Homo sapiens: one gene and its partners. The protein of the gene in region 3 interacts with the protein of the main gene of each other region in a biochemical or structural test. Each region holds a gene or a part of one and is shown on either strand. Other genes may lie near its edges. The genes, in order: LIMK1, PDLIM5, SLCO1C1, GIPC1, MYO18A, SHROOM4 and CNKSR3.

Region 1 (3,500 bases), on a different chromosome or scaffold from region 3:
TCTCGGGTTCAAGCGATTCTTCTGCCTCAGCCTCCTGAGTAGCTGGGATTACAGGCGCCCACCAACAGGCCCGGCTAATTTTTGTATTTTTAGTAGAGATGGGGTTTCACCATGTTGGCCAGACTGGTCTCAAACTCCCGACCTCAGGTGATCTGCCTGCCTTGGCCTCCCAAAGTGCTGGGATTACAGGCGTGAGCCACTGCACCTGGCTTCCTTCTTGAGTTTCACTACACCAGGGACAGCACAAACATGCCTCCTCTTTACTGCCCTGACCTGGGGACTCACCCCTCTCCTGGTGAGTGATTTGGGACAGGCCACTCCAAAGCCAGGTACACCCATCCTGTAACACGGCTTCCCTCCTGTGGCTTCTGTGGCTCTACTCCTGACCCTCTCTCCATCACCCAAGGCTCCATCTCCCCCCTCACCGCAGACACAGGGGTCCCCAAAGTTCTTCCCTTCATTCGTCTTGGCCCTATCACAAATCCCACTCACCATCTCAGGGCCAGCTCCGAGGCGGCCGTTTTTTCTGACTTTCCTACCTCCAACTGGACTCAGGCTCCCATGGCTAGCTCTGGGCAGGACACAGCCACCATGGATAGCCCATGTCCCCTCCAGCTCAACACAGATGAGCATGTCTCCTCCCCAACATGACCCCCAATTCCATCAGAGTCAACAAACCACCAACTCCCCAGTGCCCAGGTTAGAAAACCAGATGGCTTCAGGTTCCACCCTGCCATTCGCCAGTGCCCATGCCCTCCCCGAAGCCCCTGTCTTTTTCTTTCTTCCTTTCTTTCTTTTTTTTGAGATGGGATTTCACTCTGTCACCCAGGCTGGCTTGCAGTGGTGTGATCATAGCTCACTGCAACCTCCACCTCCCAGGCTCAAGCAACCCTCCCATGTCAGCGCCCTTGAGTAGCTGGGACTACAGGCACCACCACCATGCTCAGCTAATTTTTTTGTAGAGACAAGGTTTCACTATGTTGCCCACACTGGTCTCAAACTCCTGGGCTCAAGAGATCCACCTGCCTCCGCCTCCCAAAGGGCTGGGATTATAGGCATGTGCCACCGCCAGCCCCTGCCTTTCCTACTCTGTGGCGATGTGGAGTGAGAAGGTTTTAGTCCCAGCTCTAGATGTTACAACCTTCAGCGAGGCACTTGATTGCATGGAATCTCTGTTTCTCCCATGCAAACTGGGCACATACAGTCCCTCATAGAGTTATGATGAAGATTTAACAAATTAGCATGAAGAGTGCTCAATGCATGGTAGCCAATATGACAAATACTCACCAAAAACTGTCCCTTCTGCCTGAAATTCTCTCCATCCTCAGTCACTGTCCCAGGTCAGGTCCTATGAGCTCAGACCCTTGAGTTACTGGGACAGTCCCTTCCCTGCCTAGATACCACCACCGGCCCACTGGGATGGCATTCTTCAACAGCATGTCACCCCAGCCCCTCCCTGGCTTTCTGCCGACTCCCTTCTATTTTTTTTTTTTTTTTTTTTTGAGATGGAGTCTCGCTCTGTCTCCCAGGCTGGAGTGCAGTGACGTGATCTCAGCTCACTGCAGCCTCCGCCTCCCAGGTTCAAGTGATTCTCCTTCCTTAGCCTCCCGAGTAGCTTGGATTACAGTCATGTGCCACCATGCCTGGCTAATTTTTGAATATTTAGTAGAGACGGGGGTTTCACCACGTTGGCCAGGCTGGTCTCAAGCTCCTGGGGTCAAGTGATCTGCCTGCCTCGGCCTCCCAAAGTGCTGGGATTACGGGGATGAGCCACCACCCCCATCCTGACTTCTGAAACTCCTTATCTTGGCATTCAAGGCCCTTCACGAATCGGTCTCAACTTTGTTTCTTGTTGGATCCCTCAGCTTATTCTGTTCCTTCCAAGGGAACTGTTCCTGTTCCCTCAGCAGTCCGCACCATCCCACCGCTGTGCAGATGGTTTCCTCTGCCTGTTGAGAGCCCTCTTGCCCCCCGAAGGCCTCTTTCTGAGCACCTGATGCAGAATCCCAGGGCATGCTGTCTGTCTCCTTTCAGCCACACTGAGTGTGTTCATTTCACTCACTGGCTGTGTGACTTTCATCAAGAGAATTAACCTCTCTGTGTCCCAATTTTCTCTCTGGCAAAACAAAGACAGCACTAATATCTAACTATGCAAAGTACTTAGAACAGGGGTTGTCCCTTACTGAATGTTAGAAAACGTTAGACGTTATTCCTAAAAAAGAAAAAACAGGCTGGGCATGGTGGCTTATGCTTGTAATCCCAGCACTTTGGGAGGCTGAGTCAGAAGGATCGCTTGAACCAGTTGGAGCTGGAGGCTACAGTGGGCTATGATCTCACCACTGCACGCCAGCCTGGGTGACACAGCAAGACCCTGTGTAAAAAAAAAGAAAAGAAGAAACAAAAAAACAAACCGAGGCCAGGTGCAGTGGCTCATGCCTGTAATTCCAGCATTTTGGGAGGCTGAGGCGGGCAGATCACTTGAGGTCAGGAGTTCGAGACCAGCCTGGCCAACATGGCAAAACCCTATCTCTACTGAAAATACAAAACTTAGCCGGGCGTGGTGGTGCACACCTGTAATCCCAGCTACTTGGGAGGCTGAAGCAGGAGAATCGCTTGAACCTGGGAGGCGGAGGTTGCAGTGAGGAGGGATCGCGCCACTGCTCCCCAGCCTGGGCGACACAACAAGACTGTCTCAAAAAAACCAAAAACCAAAAAATAAACCAAGGCAGAAGCCTAAAATAAAGTCCTAGTGGTGGATGTCTTGACCCCTGCTGGGCATCCCAGAAGCTTCACCTTCTACCCTTTTATGGAGTTTTCTCCCCTGAACCTTGCTGTTTGGTGACTATGCCTGTAATTCTCTCCCACACCATTTGTTTTTCTTTCTTTCTTTTTTAAAAATTGAGACTGGGTCTCGCTCTATTGCCCAGGCTAGAGTGCAGTGGTGCGATCATAGCTCACTGCAGCCTCCACCTCCCAGGCTCAAGTAACCCTGCCACCTCAGCCTCTTGAGTAGCTGGGACTACAGGCATGCGCCACCACGCCCGGCTAATTTTTTGTATTTTCAGTGGAGACAGGGTGTTGCCATATTGCCCAGGCTTGTCTCGAACTCCTGAACTCAAGTGATCTGCCCACCTCAGCCCCAAAAAGTGATGGGATTATAGGTGTGAGCCACCACGCCCCACCTCCACTCTACTTTTCTACCCAGGAAATCTCACATCCTTTGAGACCCCTGCTCTGGCCCTGCTCTGGCTCAAGGCAGGTAGACCCCTGCTCCTGGCTTCTCAGGATGGTCCTACTGGGTGACCTTCAGGTCCTCATGTACTCTTTATCCTCCGCCACAACCCTGACCCTACTTTCTTCCTACCTGTGGGTGTGTGTCTGGACACTGGGGCTGGTGTGACTGGGTTATGCATGTTCGCAAGCAGCCTGGAAGACACTGAGGGTGGCCTGGTTTCCCTTAAGGCCTGGTTTGTCTTCCCTCCCTGCAAGAGCATGAACAC
Region 2 (3,500 bases), on a different chromosome or scaffold from region 3:
CCTCAAGACCGTATGTACAGCCCAGGAGCTGTTCTTCTAGAGCTCCTGCTCTCCCTCTCTCAGCAGCAGCCTGGAGTTTTGCCACCTTCTCTTTCAAAGCCCCAAAGTTGCCATGGCAGCAGTGCTACAGAAAGCACAGCCTCTTCATTACAGGAATTAACATTCAGAAGGGATTATCTCAGAGAATGGACCTATCCACACAAGTATTTTAATTATATTTTCCTGGGAACTGGCATTGGTAAAAACCATCAGGCCTGTAGACTATTTCCCTTTGTCTTCCTTTTAAGGTACATTTTTGTCACAATAAATCTGATAAAAATGATTTTACATAAATGACTGCCTTAAAGTATCATCCCTGAATTCCAAAAGCAATAAAATGACCATCATTATTCTCTCTCTTTTCTTTACTTTTTTCTTTGCAAGTAGGATTACATTATAGAAAAGAATTATTTTTAAAAAAGATACTGTACATAACCTCTCACGGCCAACTTAAATCCTTGCTCCTCAACATAAATTTCTGACTATCTGATAACATTATATTTGAACCGAAAGTGTTAAAAAAAAATAAACAAATAATTGAAGGTTGCTGAAAAACAGATGTGTGATCTTATAACTATGTGTAGTTCAAATAAGTTAATAACTTCAACCAATTTTTTTAATAAAAAGATACCCCCAAAAGGGAAAAACGATAAGAAACAGATTTTCAAAGTGTTCTGCTAACATGTATGTTTAGTGTCCAATGGCTTAAATTTACTCATTTCAGAAAACGTTTACAATGAAAGTATTTTATAATTTGCTTCTAATGCTTTCTAAGCGTGCCTTGTTGTTTCATTACTGTCTGCTTTTAAAGAATAAATTCTAACTTAAACTTATCTGAAAACAATGTTGTTAGCTCTCTGCTCTAAGCTAATGCTTCACATATAGACATGAGTCAAAAGCGGACTGGTTTTCCTAAGATTACCTCCTAGAAAAAAAACCCCTTACAAATTCATGATTTCCCCTCTCCTTACGATGAGTTGTGTAAGGTGACAGCAACTGTAACCACTGTTTGAACTTTTGGTGGCCTATTTAAAAGAATGAAAAAATTGAGGAAGAAAGATTCAAGATTTGCCTTGCATTACAAGTGCCAGCTGCTCAATGCTGTGTCGGGACTTACAAAAAATGAGTTACAGAGATGTTACATGGTTCAGAACATGTCAAAATGCACAAGTAGCTTTTGAATAAGTGATAATTGCTTTGCAGAAAGTACCCTATGTATATAAAGGCCATATGTTAATGAGGCAAATAATACTTCATCTCCCTTCCTTCAAAGAAAGTTGGTTTTGGGGGAGAGGAATGTAGAGTATTTCCTGGAAATTACCTGAAAGAAGAGTTTTAGTAAGAGCAGAAAGCACCTTAGCCACCTACCCATTTTGCTGTTTACTGTCACCCTGGGATCCTCTTCTCTGTCCCTCTGCTAGCTCCTGAGAAGTCTCGGAACACACGCTGGTGACTGTGGGCTGCCGTGGGACATTAACTGCAGTTTTACCAGCGCTCAGTGCAGATGGAGACTGGTCAGCACTAAGATTGGCATTAGCATGCAGTCCAGATGCAGCGAACAGGGGAGGAGTGACGGCAGCCACGGGTGAAGGGGAAGCATGTGATGAGGTGGTCGCATGGGCTGGGGTGAAGGCAGACGATGGTGATGGGATGGATGTGACTTTTGGTGAAGACACAGAACCAAAAGGCCGTGGTGCCTTATTGTAGGCCATGTTGTTTGTGGAAGTGACTTTGGACACAGCAGGAGATGTAATGGGCACAGGTTTAACTACTTCTTTAGGTTCTCCCTATGTAAAACAAAAATAAACATACACAAAACCACACCAAACACATGCAAAATATATTTCACCGAAAAGAACACAGAGCTGATTTTTTAAAAGACAAACACAATCAGGTTAGCAGCTCAAACATCATGTTTCCAGATAAAAACAATGGGCTGATAAAGCATAACGTGCATGCTAACTAGTCCCAACATGCATAACACAGATGCACACATTAGGTATAATTTTTAAAAATAAAAATGAAAGTAGTTTCAAAATATTTCGGAAATACAGCAGGAAAACTATCAGAAAGCCTAAAGCCCCTCATCAGTGTCAACCTAGGCATATTCCAAAGGAAAAATGTTTAAATACCCTACAATAAACAAAACATTGCTAACTGAGGTGTTTTTTATGTTAAAATATCCAAAGCCCATCTTTCCATCTTTCAAAGCCCATAGTCCCATTTTTCAAACATGTTTCATTTCTCTCCAGAGTGGAATCATTTGTTTCACGCAGAAGGAGCAGCACATTTCTAACTCTTTAAGTTTAAAAAAACAAAAAACACAGGGAATAAGATAATTTTCACCTAACTCAGGAATGTGCAAACTCTAATTAATAATCTTAAAGAATTTGAAAAAAAAAAAAAAACTTTAAAAAAGCAAATAAAACAAAATCCTTTCTTTCTTGTAATCCACCTCCATTTCTCTCTCTGAATGTTTTAAGATATGATTCAGAGATAGAATAAAATTCTTTTCCTTTTCCAAAATAAATATTTAATAGTTACATGAAGAAAAAAAAATCTTCAATATTTCCCCATCGTCAGCAGCCAAAGAAAAAACAACTAGTAAGAAAGGTCAATTCCTCCTAAAATTACCAGAATTTTTATTTGCCAATCCTTATTCCAAAGCATATTTAAAGTTAAACAAAATCAGACTAAGCTTCTACAACATTCAAGAATAAATCCCAGGAGGCGGGATAGCTCAGAGGTAGAGCGTTAGACTTCAGATCAAGAATAAATCCCTATTCCACCCTACCATATCAAAAGAAAAAATCAAATTTTTGAAAAATCATACAATGGTGGTTCTACTGTTTAATTTTAAGAAAAAAGGTAATCTCAATTCATCTTGTTTTTTTTTTTTTTTTTGAGACAGGAGTCTTGCTCTGTCACTGAGGCTGGAGTGCAGTGGTGTGATCTCAGCTCACTGTAACCTCCACTTCCCGGGTTCAAGTGATTCTCCCACCTCAGCCTCCTGGCTAGCTGGGACTACAGATGCGTGACACCATGCCCAGCTAATTTTTGTATTTTCAATAGAGATGAAGTATCACCATGTTGGCCAGGCTGGTCTCAAACTTCTGACCTCAGGTGATCCGCCTGCCTCGGCCTCCCAAAAAGATGGGATTACAGGCGTGACCCACCGCGCGCAGCCTCAATTCATCTTATAGGAAGAAGAAAACTAATTGAGAAAAATAAGTAGCTTAGTGCCCACACGAATCAATACAGGTTGAGTATCCCTTATTTAGACAGCTTGGGACCAGAAGCATTCAGATTTCAGATATTCTCAGATTTTTGAATCTTTGTAGAATGCAGGAGCATCCCTAATCCAAGAATCCAAAATCTGAAATGCTGCAATGGTCATGTGAGCATGTCAGTGTTCAGAAAGTTTGGGATTTTGGAGCATTTTGGATTTTCTAATTAGGGAT
Region 3 (3,500 bases):
CAACATATGCCTATAAAGCAAATTTTATGAAATACAAAATCTCTATAAAATGTGCCCATTTATCTCTTTTGTGAAAAATGGTTTAAAAATATTGGGTTTTTTTGAAAGTAGAAATTATGGTTTTCTAAAATGTCTCTAATGAAGCATGTGACACGTTACTTTTAGTTGATGATGGTGATAAGTGATTAAACATGTTTCAAGTAATATTTCTCACGCTTTGCTGTGCGTAAAAATACTGACAGGAAACGGTTAAGGAAATGAAAACTTGTTAAAAATGCGATTCTTGGCAAGTACCAAACGTTTCTGATTCCATGGATCTGAGGTCAGGCCAAGAAATCTGCATTTGTAATACTAACTCAAGTGTGTTGATGGAGATGATTCCTAGAACATGCTTTGATAAACATTGTTTAGGGTTTTAGACTTCAAGGGGCTTTAAAGCTTTAGCTATATTTATTTGAGATATTTAGTTTTTAAGATGTACCATGCTAAATACAGTAAGATCTTAACAATTTCCCAGCAATTGATTGTGATGGCTAATGGGTGGCCTTGCTTTGAAGTTCTCCTCATTTCCAATTTTTGAGCAAAGCATGTTTCCCTACATCTGTAAGCAATCATCTAATTTACTACTGTTCACGCACATTGCCAGCTTTAGTAAACTGGAAATAAAGCAGTAATTTTTGTGGGCTTGAGGATAATAAGAATGATAGTGAGAAACATGACTTGCACAGTGGTCCTAGTCTTTATGGCTCCAAGAAGAATTAAGCTCTTCTTAATGTTCATATTAAAAAACGAATAATTTAGCACAAGATGTCTCATTTGAAATTTAAGTATTTAGTAGAAGACATTGTGTATCATATTATTTTGATAATTCTATCTATATGTTTGTTAATGTACCACAATAAACGAACCAACATAAAATGAAAGTTGACATTCACTTTATAGGTAATTCTCTCCTATTCTCGCCTACACTCCACCAATACCACACAATAAACACTTCTGTTTACAAGCTATTTCTGTGTTACGTTAATGGGCATGTCATATACAAGACAATATGAGTTCAGTACCTGTAATACAGATATATATATATATCTATATACCATATATATACTGTATCTATCAAAGTTTTTGCTTCCTTAGTATCCTTTCTGAGTTGTCAGGAGATACATTTGAAATATAAATGATGATACAAAATCTTTAAAAAATGAAATTGGATATAAAAATTATTCCATATCTACCATCATTAGCCTCTCACAAAAAAACAGGTACAGAAAGTTTTAGAAATATGTCTTACCAAACTTTAAAGTAACATATTCTTGCTCTCCTCTCTTTTTCTGTCTGTCTATGCACACACACACACACACACACACACACACACAGACACACTCGAGATAACAGAAAAAAAAGAAAGCTACTCAATTCATCTTGTAAGACTACTATTTTCTTAAAACCAAAACTGGACAAGGACAATATAAGAAAAGACAATTAGAGCCCAAACTTGATTATGAAGATAGATGTAAAAATCCTAAACAAATTATTAGCAAACGGAATAGTATATACAAATAAAAATATCCCAACCAAGCGCAGTTCATTATAGTAGTACAAGAGTACCACCAACTAACAATAAATTATTAATTAAATCCCTATATAACAAATGGAAGGGGAATAATTCCATGGTTAACTTAATAGACACTGTAAAAGTACTAAATAAAATTAACCATTGATTTATGTTAGGAAAAAACAAATCTGAGCAAACCAGCTTTTAAAGTGTATCTATCAAAACCACAAAGCAAGCATATTGCTTAATACTAAAATTTTAAAAGTATTTGCATCAAGGTCAAACACAAGAGAAAGATGTCCATTGTAAATGCTTCTCTTCAACACAGTTCTGAGGCTAATGTAATAAGGTAATATCAACAACAACAACAAAAATCTAAGAGTTGCAAAGAAAGATACGAAATTATATTTTGTTTTAGACAATTTGTCCACAAAACTCTACAGTTTCCATGGAAAATCAATTAAAACTAATAGAATTTCAACAAAGTTGCCACATACAAATAACATAAAGACGGAGGATGATATTTGTTCTAGAATCTTGAAAAGAAGGAATGCAAAAAGAGGCAAAAGAAGTAAATTAAGATTATGTTCAGCGAAGTCATTTGTCTGGAAATTTATGTAACTCAAATAATTAGGGCAAACCTGTGATGTTTGGGATAAAGGTTTTCAATGGAAGTAAGAGAACTTTTAAGCCATTTTAAGGCATCCAATCCAATAAATAATTTATATACCTAGAATGGTCTGGAAGAATTAATGTGAATTTGGAGTCATGGTTTTCTGCTACTTCCTGTGAAAACTTAGTATACTCTCTCTATCAAATATAAACTTTGTCTCTCAAGTTGCATCAGGACCTGGGAGCCCAAACAAAACTTTGGACCAAATCATTTCTATGCCTCTTCAGCTCTAAAATATTTTTATATAATAATCTAGAGTGAGAAAAACATCAAAACATCATGATATATAATGTTTTGCCTGCTCATATCTGCTCTATTCTTTTATCTGCACCAGTTACCTCTTTCTCCTTGTTTTTCTCTCATGATATAATGTATCACCCTTTACCTTGATTCTCTTTGGCCCTTCACTCAGTGCAGGGCCATCAGTAGAACAGGGCTCAAGGAATAAATCAACCATCCGGGCCAATCTAAGCAAATTACATAAAAGATTGATGTGATCAGATGTTTTGGAAACCTGCTACACAAAATGTGATCTACTGACTAGAAGCATCAGTATCATTTAGGAGCTTATTAGAAATGCAGAATTTTATCCTGTTCCTACCAATTCAGGTTTTAAAAAAAGATTTTTAAAAGATTGCCCAGTTATTTGTGTGGACATTAAAATTTGGCACTAAGAAATGTCATTCTGGAAGGATGACAAAAGATGAATTTGGGAAGCAAATGCCTGAAGGCAAAAGGTTACTTATTCATTTTATTTTTTCTGTGATATTCAGAGTAAGAACCAAAACACATAGTATGTATGAAAAGAAATAAATTGTTAAAGAGTTGAAAAATATTTATTCACTTTTCTGAAAGTTCACCAGGTAAAGCTAAAATTGGAGCAGTTAGAGGTTTTACTATGGTGTATATCTGAATCTAAACAAGCCTTAAGGACCAGAGAGGGTACTATTTCGTTTACTTCAGCAAAAAATTAAAGCCTTTTAGTTTATCAATTCAGGAAGCAGACTAACTAGGATTATCCTCTTTAAATTACTTCTAAAACAGTGACTCAAATTACTCGATCTTTTTAATTTCTAAGGAGTCTGTAGTCAATTGCTAACCAAAGGCACCTGAGATTTGAATTTTTATTGCCTGCTCTGATCTTGTGTTCTTGGTAATAGAATCCCTTTATTCTTCTTTCTAGACCACTGGGTGGAAAAATCCCTTTTATGATGTAACTTCTATTCATCATTGCAGTAAATTCTTGTAGAGCGCATTTGGATTATTCCACAC
Region 4 (3,500 bases), on a different chromosome or scaffold from region 3:
GTTCAGCAGAGAAACCCATGTCCTCTCTCCATAGGGCCTGTTTTACTATGATGTAAAAATTAGGTCATGTACATTTTCATATTAGACTTTTTGTTAAATAAACTTTTGTAATAGTCAAAAATGTTTTTTCAGATGTTCTGAATATACAATATTAGCTCTCATTCCAATTTTTTCTAACATGAATTTTCCTGGTTGACATTGATTTCAAAGGGTTTTATGTATTAAAGTGACAGAATCTTATTAAATGTGAAACATGGCAAGGAGAAAAAAAAAAAAAAAGAAACTCATGCTAAAATTTGATCCCCAAAGTGGTGGTGCGGTGTTGGGAGGTGGGGCCTAGTGGGAGGTGTCTGTGTTATGGGGCCAGATCTCTCCTGAATGGCTTGAAGTAGCTCTGGAAGCAATGAGTGCTTGCTCTCAAGAGCCCGGATTAGTTCTCCAGAACTTACAGTAGTTGGCCAGGTGCAGTGGCTCACACCTGTAATCCCTGCACTTTGGGAGGCCGAGGCGGGCGGATCACGAGGTCAGCAGTTCAAGACCAGCCTGGCCAACATGGTGAAACCCCGTCTCTACTAAAATTACAAAAAATTAGGCCAGGCACGGTGGTGGGCACCTGTAATCCCAGCTACTGGGGAGGCTGAGGCAGGAGAATTGCTTGAACCTGGGAGGTGGAGGTTGCGGTGAATCAAGACCGTGCCATTGCACTCCAGCCTGGGCAACAGAGAGAGACTCAGTCTCAAAAAGAAAAAAAAGAAAATACATTAGTTAGGCCAGGAACGGTGGTTCACGCCTGTAATCCCAGCACTTTGGGAGGCAGAGGCAGGCGGATCACCTGAGGTCGAGAGTTCGAGACTGGCCTGACCAACATGGAGAAACCCCATCTCTACTAAAAATACAAAATTAGCTGGGTGTAGTGGCACATGCCTGTAATCCCAGCTACTAGGGAGGCTGAGGCAGGAGAATCGCTTGAACCTGGGAGGCAGAGGTTGAGGTGAGCTGAGACAGTGCCATTGCACTCCAGCCTGGGCAATAAGAGCGAAATTCTGTCTCAAAAAGAAAAAAAAGGCCAGGTGTGGTGGCTCACGCCTGTAATCCCAGCACTTTGGGAGTCCAAGGCGGGTGGATCACGAGGTCAGGAGATCGAGACCATCCTGGCTAACACAGTGAAACCCCGTCTCTACTAAAAATACAAAAAAAATTAGCTGGGCGTGGTGGCACACACCTGTAGTCCCAGCTACTCGGGAGGCTGAGGCAGGAGAATGGCGTGAACTCGGGAGGCGGAGCTTGCAGTGAGCCGAGATCATGCCACTGCACTCTAGCCTGGGTGACAGAGCGAGACTCCATCTCAAAAAAAAAAAAAAAGAAAGAAAGAAAGAAAGAAAATACATTAGTTAGGCCGGGTGCAGGGACGGTGGCTCCCGCCTGTAATCCCAACACTTTGGGAGGCCGAGGCGGGTGGATCACCTGAGGTCAGGAGTTTGAGACCAGCCTGGCCAACATGGTGTGAGCCAAAGAAGGCTGGTGTGAGCCACTGCGCTCAGCCTATATTTTCTTATGTAAAAGGGACTTCCTGGTGCCTCCTATCCAATGGTCTCTTCCAGGGGGCCATGCTGGATTCAGCTTGGCCGCATCCAATCTTTTTTTTTTTTGAGATGAACTCTCACTCTGTCACCCAGGCTGGAGTGCAATGGCGCGATCTCGGCTCACTGCAACCTCCACCTCCCAGGTTCAAGCGATTCTCCTGCCTCAGCCTCCTGAGTAGCTGGGATTACAGGTGCGTGCCACCACACCTGGCTAATTTTTGTATTTTTAGTAGAGATGGGGTTTCTCCATGTTGACCAGGCTGGTCTGGAACTCCTGACCTCAGGTGATTCGCCCACCTTGGCCTCCCAGAGTGCTGGGATTAGAGGTGTGAGCCACTGCACCCAGCCTGCACCTAGTCTCATGTATCCATTTGTTCATGCATCCATTCGTCTGTCCCCTAACACACCCTCTCATCTCACCTGGTCCATCTCCATGATCACTTACCTAAACTAGTGTGGTTGCCTCCTGTGGGTTTCCCAGCTTCCACCCTCACCCCCTACGACTTCTTGTCCAGACAGCAGCCAGAATGGTCCTGTAAAACATAAGTCATGTCGCATTTGTCTCTGCTCTGACCCCTCCCCGGGCTCTGACCTCGCTGGAAAGAAAAATCAGTGTCGGCCGGGTGTGGTGGCTCTCGCCTGTAATCCTAACACTCCGGGAGGCCGAGGTGGGCATGAGCCACCACGCCCAGCCATATATTTTCAAAATTAGCCAGGCGTGGTGGCGGGCGCCTGCAGTCCCAGCTACTCGGAAGGCTGAGGCAGGAGAATGGCATGAACCCGGGAGGTGGAGTTTGCAGTGAGCCAAGATCGTGCCACTGCACTCCAGCCTGGGTGACAGAGTGAGGCTCCATCTCAAAAAAAAGAAAAAAGAAAAGACCCCTCATCATCCCTCCAATTCCGCCAGCTCTACGCACTGGGAGGCAGGAAACTAAAAACATGAATCTGGAACCTGGCTTCATCTCTTAATAGCTGTGTGACTTTGGGCAAGGGTCTTAACCTCTCTGAGCTCCAAGGAAATCATGCATGTGCTTGGAACAGTCCTGGCACACAATAAGGGTTGCATAAATATTGGTGACAATTACTGCTACTGCCATCTTTTGTTTTTTTTTTTGAGACGGAGTCTCGCTCTGTTGCCCAGGCTGGAGTGCAGTGGCACGATCTCAGCTCACTGCAAGCTCTGCTTCCCGGGTTCACGCCATTCTCCTGCCTCAGCCTCCCGAGTAGCTGGGACTACAGGTGCCCGCCACCATGCCCAGCTAATTGTTTGTATTTTTAGTAGAGACGCTGTTTCATCATGTTAGCCAGGATGGTCTCGATCCCCTGACCTCGTGATCCACCTGCCTCGGCCTCCCAAAGTGCTGGGATTATAGGCGTGAGCCACTGCACCCGGCCTTGCTACTGCCATCTGTACCAAGATTCAAGCTTCCTCCTTTTCCCAAGATCCCTACATCCTGACCACCAATTCCCAGCCTCCTTACTCTCTCTCTCTGCCCACCCCACTGCCCTGGTTCATGCCAGCTTCCGTGTCCCCACCCGTGAGGAGGCATTAACAGCAGTGAGGAAAGTGAGTGAGTAATGAATCTGCCTGCCACGGCCATAAGAGGCTTCGTGGCCTGGGTTCAAATCCCACCCCTGCCACTTACCAGCTGTGTGGCTGGGGGGCAAGTCACTTCACATCACAGGGCCTCAGTTTCTTCATCTGAAAAATGGGTGGAATTCCTGTCACTCTCAAGGTGGTTGTGGAAATCCAAAGAGATTACCCACGTATCCCATCTACACTCTGCCTCAGACTCCATTTAAGGACGCTGTTGTCATTACTATGGGTGTCTCCTCCTCTGCCCTGCCCTGCCCAGGAATATCCCAACCCTCTCTGCCTGCCAATACCTACTCCAGGCCCACTCCTCCATGAAGCCT
Region 5 (3,500 bases), on a different chromosome or scaffold from region 3:
AGGGCTGCAGCTCCAGGGACCACGCCGAGTGTGGGGCATCAGTAGGAGAGGAGCCACACTGGGCTGTGTTTTCTCCAATGGTGTTGAAACGAGAGTGCACTTGAACTGACGGAGGCAGTGGAGGCAGGAGGAGTACGGGAAAGGTGGCCCCAAGGCTTTGGGAGAAAGAAAAGAGAAGGTGAATGGAGCTGTGAGATGAGGTCCCCTCTTCCCTGTTCAGTGCTGTGATCCTGCTCCATCAGGGGGAAGAGGCCTCTTCACATCTGGGATAGCTGGAGGCCTCCAGAGCCAGAGGCCTGATGAAGACTCTGAGTTATGTTATTGTACCAAGAAAGGGGCTTTTCCCCTTGGGCCATCCTAAAACAGGTCTTCCCAGCCTCTCCTTCCTGAGCCTCCATTTCTTGTTAGTAGATGATGGCATGGTCAAAGCTGAAAATTCTCACAGGCCTCAGGGAGCCATCATTAGGGGAAAGGGTTCAGATCTGGGAGTATTTGACAGGGAAAGCGCCTCCTCCTCAGAAGGAATCTTTTTAGGAATCACTCGCCTAAGAGAGCCCCTACCCTAGACAAGTTGTACTCACCAGACCTCCAGTCTCCAAGCCAATGTGGTTCACGGACTGCCTGCTTCAGAGCCTTCTGGGGAAGGACTGAAAATGCAGAATTACTGGGTTGTACCCAAAAGCCAGCGATTCAAGGTTTCTAAGAGGAAGGGCCCAGGAACCTGCATCAGATTCTTATGCACGCTTGAGTCCGAGACTCACTGCTCTCAGCATCCCTTTCCTCGGAGCTTTAAAAGCTTCCAGAGTCTCCTTCCTCTTAGCATTTTGAGTATCTTCTAAGTAAGCCAAGGAAGGTTTTTACTTAACAATGTTTGGCTTTTGGGGAGTGCTCTGACGCAGCTTTGTGGGCCTCCAGAACCAAAGGCGTGCGTGCTTAATGGTAGGAGTGTCATTTGTCCCTAACCTTATTCCTCGGTCCCTGCAGCCCCACCAGCTACTGGAAGTCCCTTGCCCCTGATCGGTCAGATGATGAGCACGACCCTCTCGACAACACCTCCAGACCGCGATACTCCCACAGTTATCTGAGTGACAGCGACACAGAGGCCAAGCTGACGGAGACTAACGCATAGCCCAGGGGAGTGGTTGGCAGCCCTCTCACCCCAGGGCCTGTGGCTGCCTGGGCACCTCTCCCAGGAAGTGGTGGGGCACCGGTCTCCCCCACCCGACTGCTGATCTGCATGGGAAACACCCTGACCTTCTTCTGTCAGGGGCACTTTCCAGGCTATGGGTGTCTGATGTCTCCACGTGGAAGAGGTGGGGGAAAGAGGAGTTTCTGAAGAGAACTTTTTGCTCCTCTGTCTCAAAATGCCAGACTCTTGGCTTCTACCCTGTGTCACCGTGGGCAGTGGCAGGTGGCCTGGCACTGCATGGAGCCAGCACGTTGACCTCCCTCTCAGCTCCCTGCTCAGGGACGGTGGACAGGTTGCCTACTGGGACACTCTAGGTTGCTGGGTCCATGGGGAGGATTGGGGGAGGAGAAGCAGTGCCTTCCCTCTCGTGTGGGGTGGGGGCTCTCTCTTCTTGGTGCCTGCTGTCTTTCTACTTTTTAATTTAAATACCCAACCTCTCCATCACAGCTGCATCCCTGAGAGTGGGAGGGGGCTGTAGTGGTAGCTGGGGCTCCCAAGAACGACTCGGGAATGTCATCTCCATCTTCACCCTTCAGAGAGCAGTCCTTTCTCTGTGCAGCTGGAGACGCTGGTGAGGAGAGCCGGGTCCAGGTTCTTAAGAATGAGGTGCGGAGGGGCTCTCCGGTGCTGCTGGGCTGGGTTGAGCAAGCCTACGCAGACAAGTGTGTGTGTGGACCATCCGCACCTCCAGCCCCCACCCCACCCTCTTTGTCTCAGCGTGTTATGTGCAATGACCTATTTAAGGTAAACCCATTCCAACTACAGCAGTTCAGGGCTGATCCAAGCACTGCCTCCCTCCTGCTCTGTCCAGGTGGTCTGGACCATAAACTCAACTTGAGAGGGAAGGCTTGGGGTTGAGGACTTGTGATCAGAAAAACTGAAGATGGAAGTTTTGGCCGGTGCTCATTAGACATGAGTCCTCACTCTGTGTCCTGAGCCCGTGTCATTCTTCCAACCTCCCTGCCCCCACACACTTATCCCAGACACAACACCATGTGGTCTGGAGGTCCCAGCCCCCACCCTAAAAAGGTTATCCCTGAGAACTCCACCAGACTTGGGAGCCCAAGTGCAGTGCCTGGTGCTGCTCCCATCTGCCGCCCCCCTTCTCTCCTGCAATTGGTTTGTACTCACTGGGCTGTGCTCTCCCCTGTTTACCCGATGTATGGAAATAAAGGCCCTTTTCCTCCTGGCTGCGCCAGTTTTCCTGCCTGTTCCTTCAGGCTCAGGCAAAGTCTGGATTGGTCCTGGGGGTGGTGGGCAGAGGCAGGATTCTGATGGGGACCGTGAGGGCATCACCCTGGTCTCTGGCCTGCTCCCCAAAGTGTCAGACCAGTGCCACTTAAAGAGCCTAGGCAGCTCATTTTGGGGCAGGCAGAGGTAGTGGAATGAGGGGATTGGCCAAGGAAGACACAAGCCCCACCTTTTATGTGAAGAGCCTAGGGACTGTGATTCAGGTTAGCAAGGGTGGCAGAGACTCCAAGCCTCATCCTCCCTAGCCTCCACAAGGGAATGTTGAGGTCCCTCTGATTGTTAAATCTCACCAATTACAGAGATTCTCTTCTCTTCTCTTCTCTTCCTCCTTCCGTCCCTCCCTCTCTCCCTCTCTCTCTCTCTTTCTTTCTTTCATTCTCTTTCTTTTTGGATTCAAGCCCTTCTCATTAGAACATTTTTTAAAAGCTTAATTTTAGCCATTTCAAAGGTGACTTTTTGATCAAAACTTGGCAGAACTAGCTCGGGCCCACAGGGCAATGTGAATAGGTTGGGAGTGCTGTCTCTGCCCTGCTCGGTCCCTGTCTTCATGCCCTACTCCATGCTTTGTTCCTTCATTGACAGCTAAGAGGCAGCTCATGCAGAAAGGCAAGAAACAAATGACACCCCTCCTCCTCTTCTACCTTCTACCTTCTCATTCTGTAGTGTGGCCAGTTATAATCCCTGAATGAATAAAGTAGTTTGGACAGATGGGTGGGAAAAAATAGCAAACAGCCCAAGTGCCGAGGCTCTGATAATGTCAGCCATCCAGAAAGAGTCCAAAAGGGAAGAAGGGAGAAAAGTCTCCCCCAAAATGAATGGGACAGAGTGTGAAGTGGATCTGTCTCGAACAGAGACTGCCCCCTCCATTGCCCCACGATAGAACAGAGAAGAGGATAGAAACAATAGTAAAAGGGAAGTTACTTGTCTTTTGGAGACAGAGTCTTGCTATGTCGCCCAAGCTGGAATGCAGTGGCATGATCTCAACTCACTGCAACCTCTACCTCCCGAGGTTCAAGCGATTCTCCTGCCTAAACCCTCCGAGTAGCTGGGACTTAACAGA
Region 6 (3,500 bases), on a different chromosome or scaffold from region 3:
CTTATTGCCTCCCATTTTCTACTTCAGAAGTATTTAGAGATGCAAAACTTGCAAATATCCCCAGGCTTTGCTTTCAGAGATCTGACTTGTTGGGTTTTTAAAAAGACAAATCCTTTCCCCTTTCTCCATCCTGTCTCTGTTGGAGACCCAGGTCTAAACTGGCTGCTCTTATATCCCGGTTATGACCTATTACCATAACACAAGCTACCACCATCCCCCAGGCTACTTCTGGGAGGACTCCCTAGGTCCTTGCCTACTCACTGCCAGATTACTTCCCCATGGCATCCCTGATGCCATCTTTTGGCCGGTGCATTCAAACCAGAAGTTAATTCCTGTGTTCAGCTGTTGCATACACAGACACTTTTGAAATGACTTAGTATCTGAATTTGCTCAATATATATCCTTGGTAAAAAGGAACTTCAAGGGTGATAGAAGCCTTACACAAAAGACTATGAACTCTACAATTCCTTTTATATGAAATTCTAAAACAGCTATTCTATGGGGGAACAAATTCAGAACACTGCTCGCCAATGGGAGGTGGCACAGAGATTGACTGGAAAAGGGCAGAGGGAACTTGTGGGGTGGTGACAATGTTCTATATCTTGGTAAGAGTTTGAGTTAAACATATGTACCTGTCAGAACTCAACAAATGTATAGCAAGGCTCCTAGACAGCCAATGCACTTAGTATTTGTGCATTTCACTGGAAGTAAATTTTGCCTAAAAATGTTGTAAACAAATATTAAACTTTATTTAATATGTATGCTGAAGTGTGTTTGAAGTATACTGCTGTATTCAACTTATGTTTTCAGCATACAAATCTTGTACATATTTTGTTATATTTGTCCCTGAGATTTTATGAAAGCGCCGAATCCTAGCCACCCAACCACCAGGGATATTTGTCCCTAAGATTTTATGTTTTTAGATGCTATTATAAAGAGTATTATTTTCTTAATGTCAAGTTGAAATTCTTGATTACTAGTCTATAGAAATATAATTGAATTTTGTGTATTGACATTGTATCCTGCAACCTTGCCAAACTCACTTATTAGTTCTAATAGCTTTTTGGTGGATTATAAAACATTTTCTACATACACAATCATGCCATCTCCAAATAGAATTTAGTGTCTTCCTTTCTCCTGTACATGCCCTTTTCTGGGAGAGAGAAGAGCCTTATTGCACTCTCACCTTCAATACAATGTTTGGAGGAAATGGTAAGAGTGGACATTGTAGCTTTTTTCTTAATCTTTGACTATAAAGTTTGATGTTAGCTGTAGGATTTTTTTGTAGGTGCCCTTTAATTGAGGAAAATCTCTTTTATTCTTAGTTTACTGAGAGTTTTCATCAGAAGTGGATGTTGTATTTTTTTTCAAATGCTTTTTCTGTATCTGTTGAGATGATCATATAGTTTTTCTCTTTTAGTCTACTGATGTGGTGAATGACATTGATTGATTTTTAAAATAAATAGAAGCCTAGCATTGCCAGGATAAATCCCACTTGGTCATGATGTATTATCCTTTTATATGTTACTAGATTTGCTAATATTTTGTTAAGGATTTTGCCCTTATGTTTATCAGGGATTTTAGTCTATAGTTTTATTATAACATCTTTTTCTGTTTTTTGTTTTTTTTGTTTGTTTGTATCAAGGTAATGCTAGCCTTAAAAAATGAGTTGGGATGTATTCCCTTCTCTTTTATTTTCAGGAAGAGTTTGTATAAAATGTCTTCCTTAAATGTTTGCTTGAATTCATCACTGAAGCCATCTGGGCCTGGAGGTTTTTTGGTAGAAAGCTTTTTAACTACAAATTCAATTTCTTTAATAGATTTGGGGACATTTAGGTCATCTATTTCTCCTTGAGTAAGCTTTAGTAGTTTGTGTCTTTCAAGAAATTTGTCCATTTCATTTACATTTTAAAATTTATGGGGATATAGTTGTTTTCAACTTACTTTAAAATGCACCAGGATTTTAAGATGGATTGGTAGATGGATAGAGGAGTAAATGGATATATGATAAGGCAAATATATCAAAATGTTAATTGTAGAATCTAGGTGCTGGGTATATGGGTGATCACTGTGAACTTCTTTCAACATTTTTGTATGTTTGAATATATTCATAATGTTGAAAAAAAGAGGAGAGGAAATATAAAATAATGGTTTTAAGGGCACCGAAGCTGGAACCAGACTGCCTGGTTTTGAATTTCTTCCCCCGAACTTACAATGCCTAAGCTTTCCCATCTAAAAGCATGGGGGTAGTAACAACACCTACTTCATAAGTTGGTTGTGGGGATTAAGTGATGTAACACATTTAAGACTCAGAGCAGTGACTGCCAGATTGTAATCATCTTATAAGTGAGTTATCATCTCTTAAAGGGACATTTTGGCTTAGCTTGAGAGACTTTTGCTGGAAGAAGGACTCACAGATAGACAGTAGACAAAGGGGGCTGAGATTGGGGGTGAGTGGGGCGGGGGAAGTGAGGAGATGACGGCTGCAGCGGTGTCAGCCCAGGACCAGCAGCTCTATAAGAGATGGAGGTACGATTTGCAGGTTGCAGCAATTGGCAGCAGTAATGCATGCGGGTGAGGCTGTGCCTACACCATGCCTCTATTTTTTGTACTCTGAGGGAGGGATACCTTGGGTTCCTAATGCTTGTTAGACCAGCTAAGCAGGTCTGCTTAGATACTAGGCATTCCGACACGTGGATGGCTGCCTAGGAGACACCACATGCCCATTTCTGCCCATCATCTGAACCTTCCACTCCTACTCCACCCCCCTCAAGAAATGGGAAAAACTTGCAGCATGGGTTAAGATGCCATCGCTCTGATGACTCAGGTACTTGTGGTGGTAGCTATCTGAAGTAGGGCTGAGATCCTGCTCCTAATGCCCCTGGACGAGGTTGGTGAACTAATTGTCTCCTGTTCAGTGCTGTGAAGACTGAAATCAGCATGCACTCACGTCCTTCATACCAGCTTGTTTTTCATTCATTGTCAAATTATTTCACTTACCAATTGTATGGGATAAGTTATAATAGGATCTCCCATTTTACAGCTGAGGAAGCTGAGAAAGCCAAGGCTCAGAGAGGTCACACATCTAGCAAGTGGCAGAGCCAGAATTTGAATAACATGACAGTAACTAGCATCTCAGTGTCTACTGGGCACCAGGTACTATTCTAGATGCTTTACATGTATCAAGTCATTGAGTTCTCAAGCAATATTATTATCGTGATTATACTATTATATAGTTGGGGAAACTGAGATAAAGAGAAGTTGAATGGCTTGCCTGAGGCCGCAAGTGAAAGGCAGGTGTGCGATTTGAATCCATGCTATCAAGCTCCAGAGGCCAAGCTCCTGACTGTGCTACACTGCCTCTCCATAAGCTGATTGCAAAGCCCAGGCCCTCTCTAGTGTGGCCGGATGCCCTCTAGCAGTATCACTTCCACTGGGACAGCAAGTTCCCATCACAATCTCCATTTGCAGCAAGCGGTGGGGATAACTGCCTCTTTGAT
Region 7 (3,500 bases), on a different chromosome or scaffold from region 3:
TCCCAAGGGGTTGAGTGGTAGAACCACTGAGAATATTGTTGCTGCTCTTTTGGAGACAACAAACTGCATTAATAAAAGTCTGAGAACAAGAAAGTTGAGTTTTCAAGTAATGTCCTTTGCATATTGCTACATAGGGCTCATCTGAGTCTGTGATGTTCTACTTTGTTGATGAAAGAAAACAAGTGGAAATTCTGCTCCCCCACACATCCTGCACTGCAAAAAGATAACAAGTAGCAGGAGATACTCAATTATGATGCAGTTCAACAAAGAAAACAAATTAAAATAAAGAGATCCTGGGTGGTTAAATACAGAGTCTCCTTTGTAAACAGCAATGGATGATGATGATGACTGTTACCAGGGCTCTGTATGATCATTTTCCCAATTCTTTGGAGTACTTTTTTCAAAAGCACTCTTGTAGAATTAACTGGAAACATAGACTACCCTTCACTCATTACATGGGAAATGGGATTGAATTCTCTTCTTGGCAATGGAAAATACTTGATGCATGCAAATAAGAAAACTCTTACTTTTTCCTTCTCTCCTTGCAGGGGGAGCACGCGTCCTAAGCTTGCCAGGAAGCCCTGCTCTCCTGCCCTGGGCACCTCCGTTCCACTTGACCTTTTCCACCTGTACTCCCTGCATTTTGGTCTCTTGCTCTGGTCTTTAGCCTTCGCATTTTCCTGATGCAGCCCAAACCAGTCACCTCTCTCCTAGATTCATTCTCTGTGCTCAGACCATCTCTTTCCTTTAGTTCCTGTGACGAAAGAAAATGTATTTGGCCATTGGAGGTATAAGCAACAAAGAATCCAACCCACACAGCTTTATATATGCAGGTTCTCTATATGCTCTTCTTGTGAACAGCGTGGGGAGAGGAAAATAGACTTGGCAAGAGGACTAAGAACAGAATCGGACAGTTATCTGATGGCTTTCCTAAGGTTCAGGAAAGAACAGTGGTCCCTTTGTTGGGCCTTTCTGTTGTTTCTTTGTTTTCAATTTCACTGATTTCTGCTTTTTATTTTCTATTTTCTTCTGTTTCCTTTGGAATTCTTCTTTTTTTTTTTTTTTTTTTTTACTTCTTGTATTAGGCTCATGCTATAACAAACAACCCCCAAATCTCAGTGACTTTACACACTAAGAGTTTACATTTTCCTCATCAACGTCCACTTTGGATGTTCCAGGTTGGGTAATGCTCTGTGGCTGTCCTCTAGCTAGTGACTCAGGGACTTGGGTTGCTCCTGGTGTCTCCAGCGTGGTTATGGTGTCTCCAATTTTGGACTTCAAGGTGACCCAGGCATTATCCACCTGGTAAATTGGGAGATGGGTCCCAGGAAAGTGAATACTCAACCAACCTGGCCTAGAAGTGACAATAATAAGGCCATGTGTGGTGGCTAACAGTCAGAAACCCAACAATTGGGAGATTGAGCTGGGAGGATTGCTTGAGACCAGAAGTTCAAGACCAGCTGGGCACCATAGTGAGACCCTATCTTTCAAAAAAATATAACAACCAGGCTTGGTGGTGTACACCTGTGGTCCCAGCTATTTGGGAGGCTGAGGTGGGATAATCGCTGGAGCCCAGGAGTTTGAGGTTACAGTAAACCAGGTTTACACCACTGCACTCCAGTCTGGATGACAAAGCAAAACCCTCATCTCACAAAAGAAAAGAAATGACAATCACAGCCACTGCAACTTCAAGGAAGGTTGGGAGAGTGATATTGGTCAGGATGAGTGGTCTCTGACATGTTTCTTAAGTTGGATATTTAGCTTATTAATTTACAACTCTTTTCTAATATTAATACTCAAGACTACATTTTCCCCAAAACATTTATTTTGCCATGTTTTGCAAGGCTTGGTATATGGCATTTTCATTACTCTTTAATTCTAACTAATTTTTAATTTCTATTATGATTTATTATTTGATCTATGAATCATTTTGAAATTTGTTTTTGTAACCTTGGATAGGGAAAGATTTCTTATAGAAGACAGTAAAAGGGCTGAGTACAAAAGAAAAGACTAATAAATTCAGCTACGCTAAAGCTTAGAACTTTTCCTCATCATAGGACACCTTAAAGAAAATTTTTAAAAAGTTACAAATTGGGAGAAGATTAAAAAGTCCTAAGGGTTAGCAGTAAGAATATATACATATAATTATTACAAATTGGCAAGAGAATGACAAATCAACACAAAAACGAGCGAAAAGGCATTTTGCAAAAGAGAATCAGATGGTCCATATGCATGTGAAGCGATTTTCACTAGCGAGCAGGGAAAGTGAAGTCAAAATCACAGGGAGATGCTGCTCTCTACCTGACTGGCAAAACTGAAATGATTAGAAAATACTTGGAGGATATCCTAGAACGATCAGTGGGATCTGGTATATTATGTGTATGAGGTTAAATTAGCAGTGAGTATTCACATACCCTATGACTCAGCAGTTTCATTCCTAGATATATATCCTGGGGATTAGAAACACTAAGTAGGTGGGTGCAGTGGCTCACACCTACAATCCCAGCACTTTGGGAGGCCAAGGCAGGTGGATCACTTGAGGTCAGGGGTTCGAGACCAGACTGGCCAACATGGTGAAACCCCATCTCTACTAAAAATACAAAAATTAGCCAGGCGTGGTGGCGGGCACCTGTAATCCCAGCTACTTGGGAGGCTGAGGTGGGAGAATCGCTTGAACCCCGGAGGTGGAGGTTGCAGTGAGCTGAGATTGTGCCACTGTACTCCAGCCTGGGCGACAGAATGAGACTCCATCTCCAAACAAACAAACAAACAAACAAACCACTAACTACCTCAGAGGACAATGCTAACATTTCAAAGTGTTCTAGAAGTTGGTTTCCCAGAAAAGAAGTCAGGCTCTTGTGGAGCTCCATGGAAACTGGCAATGACCCATGACTTAGGGCAGTGAAGTCTCATCAAATGCAAGGCTTAGACCCCATTCTGCTGCTGCCGTCAGGGGAGGCAAGGGCTCCTTGTTCCCCAAACATCGATGCTAATGAAGCAAATCCTGCTGCTAGTTTGCAGTGTTGCCTAGCTGCAAACACAACCTCTGATGATGCCAATAGAGAGGCTGGTGCCTCCTTCATCATAGAGCTTACAATCCCCACAAGGTTTCGGGACCCTCTTTTGGATTCTGAGGGTGGGCTCCTTTAGCCATCTGTTTAGTGCCCCAGATGAAATTGACAGCAGGGGACCTGCACTCCTTCTACTGCTTTTTCTCAAGGCATCCCCAGCAGAGGGTCTCTAGGGTGCCTGTTATGTGTGCTGTTTGGCCATCTGCCTTTGTAGAACACAGCCCAATGTCTGTTGGCAAAAAAAGGTTTACATGTGGTATATTCTTACCATGGAATATTCTGCAGCAAGTAAAAATGAATAAATTACAGCTATTCATATCAAAGAGATGGATTTTATTAATATAGTGCTGAGTGGGAAAAAGCATCAGAAGACAACATATAATGGTACACTCTTTTTTTTTTTTTGAGATGGAGTCTCTCTCTGTTGCC

The links.
Region 1: the proteins of SLCO1C1 (region 3) and LIMK1 interact in a test that uses a peptide from one of them, tested with the Homo sapiens proteins (one large-scale study listed by IntAct).
Region 2: the proteins of SLCO1C1 (region 3) and PDLIM5 interact in a test that uses a peptide from one of them, tested with the Homo sapiens proteins (one large-scale study listed by IntAct).
Region 4: the proteins of SLCO1C1 (region 3) and GIPC1 interact in a test that uses a peptide from one of them, tested with the Homo sapiens proteins (one large-scale study listed by IntAct).
Region 5: the proteins of SLCO1C1 (region 3) and MYO18A interact in a test that uses a peptide from one of them, tested with the Homo sapiens proteins (one large-scale study listed by IntAct).
Region 6: the proteins of SLCO1C1 (region 3) and SHROOM4 interact in a test that uses a peptide from one of them, tested with the Homo sapiens proteins (one large-scale study listed by IntAct).
Region 7: the proteins of SLCO1C1 (region 3) and CNKSR3 interact in a test that uses a peptide from one of them, tested with the Homo sapiens proteins (one large-scale study listed by IntAct).

Annotation. Positions count from the first base shown.
Region 1 is NC_000007.14:74,086,804-74,090,303, reverse strand, and holds part of LIMK1 (LIM domain kinase 1), read right to left. Parts: intron 1-3,500. UniProt on the Homo sapiens protein: Serine/threonine-protein kinase that plays an essential role in the regulation of actin filament dynamics. Acts downstream of several Rho family GTPase signal transduction pathways.
Region 2 is NC_000004.12:94,573,942-94,577,441, reverse strand, and holds part of PDLIM5 (PDZ and LIM domain protein 5), read right to left. Parts: intron 1,827-3,500; coding exon 1,408-1,826; intron 1-1,407. UniProt on the Homo sapiens protein: May play an important role in the heart development by scaffolding PKC to the Z-disk region. May play a role in the regulation of cardiomyocyte expansion. Isoforms lacking the LIM domains may negatively modulate the scaffolding activity of isoform 1.
Region 3 is NC_000012.12:20,701,832-20,705,331, reverse strand, and holds part of SLCO1C1 (solute carrier organic anion transporter family member 1C1), read right to left. Parts: intron 1-3,500. UniProt on the Homo sapiens protein: Mediates the Na(+)-independent high affinity transport of organic anions such as the thyroid hormones L-thyroxine (T4), L-thyroxine sulfate (T4S), and 3,3',5'-triiodo-L-thyronine (reverse T3, rT3) at the plasma membrane.
Region 4 is NC_000019.10:14,489,628-14,493,127, forward strand, and holds part of GIPC1 (PDZ domain-containing protein GIPC1), read right to left. Parts: intron 3,290-3,500; exon of another isoform or gene 3,286-3,289; 5' UTR 3,230-3,285; intron 2,117-3,229; 5' UTR 2,029-2,116; intron 1-2,028. UniProt on the Homo sapiens protein: May be involved in G protein-linked signaling.
Region 5 is NC_000017.11:29,072,399-29,075,898, reverse strand, and holds part of MYO18A (unconventional myosin-XVIIIa), read left to right. Parts: intron 1-984; coding exon 985-1,129; 3' UTR 1,130-3,500.
Region 6 is NC_000023.11:50,629,195-50,632,694, reverse strand, and holds part of SHROOM4 (protein Shroom4), read left to right. Parts: intron 1-3,500. UniProt on the Homo sapiens protein: Probable regulator of cytoskeletal architecture that plays an important role in development. May regulate cellular and cytoskeletal architecture by modulating the spatial distribution of myosin II.
Region 7 is NC_000006.12:154,392,186-154,395,685, reverse strand, and holds part of CNKSR3 (connector enhancer of kinase suppressor of ras 3), read left to right. Parts: 3' UTR 1-3,500. UniProt on the Homo sapiens protein: Involved in transepithelial sodium transport. Regulates aldosterone-induced and epithelial sodium channel (ENaC)-mediated sodium transport through regulation of ENaC cell surface expression.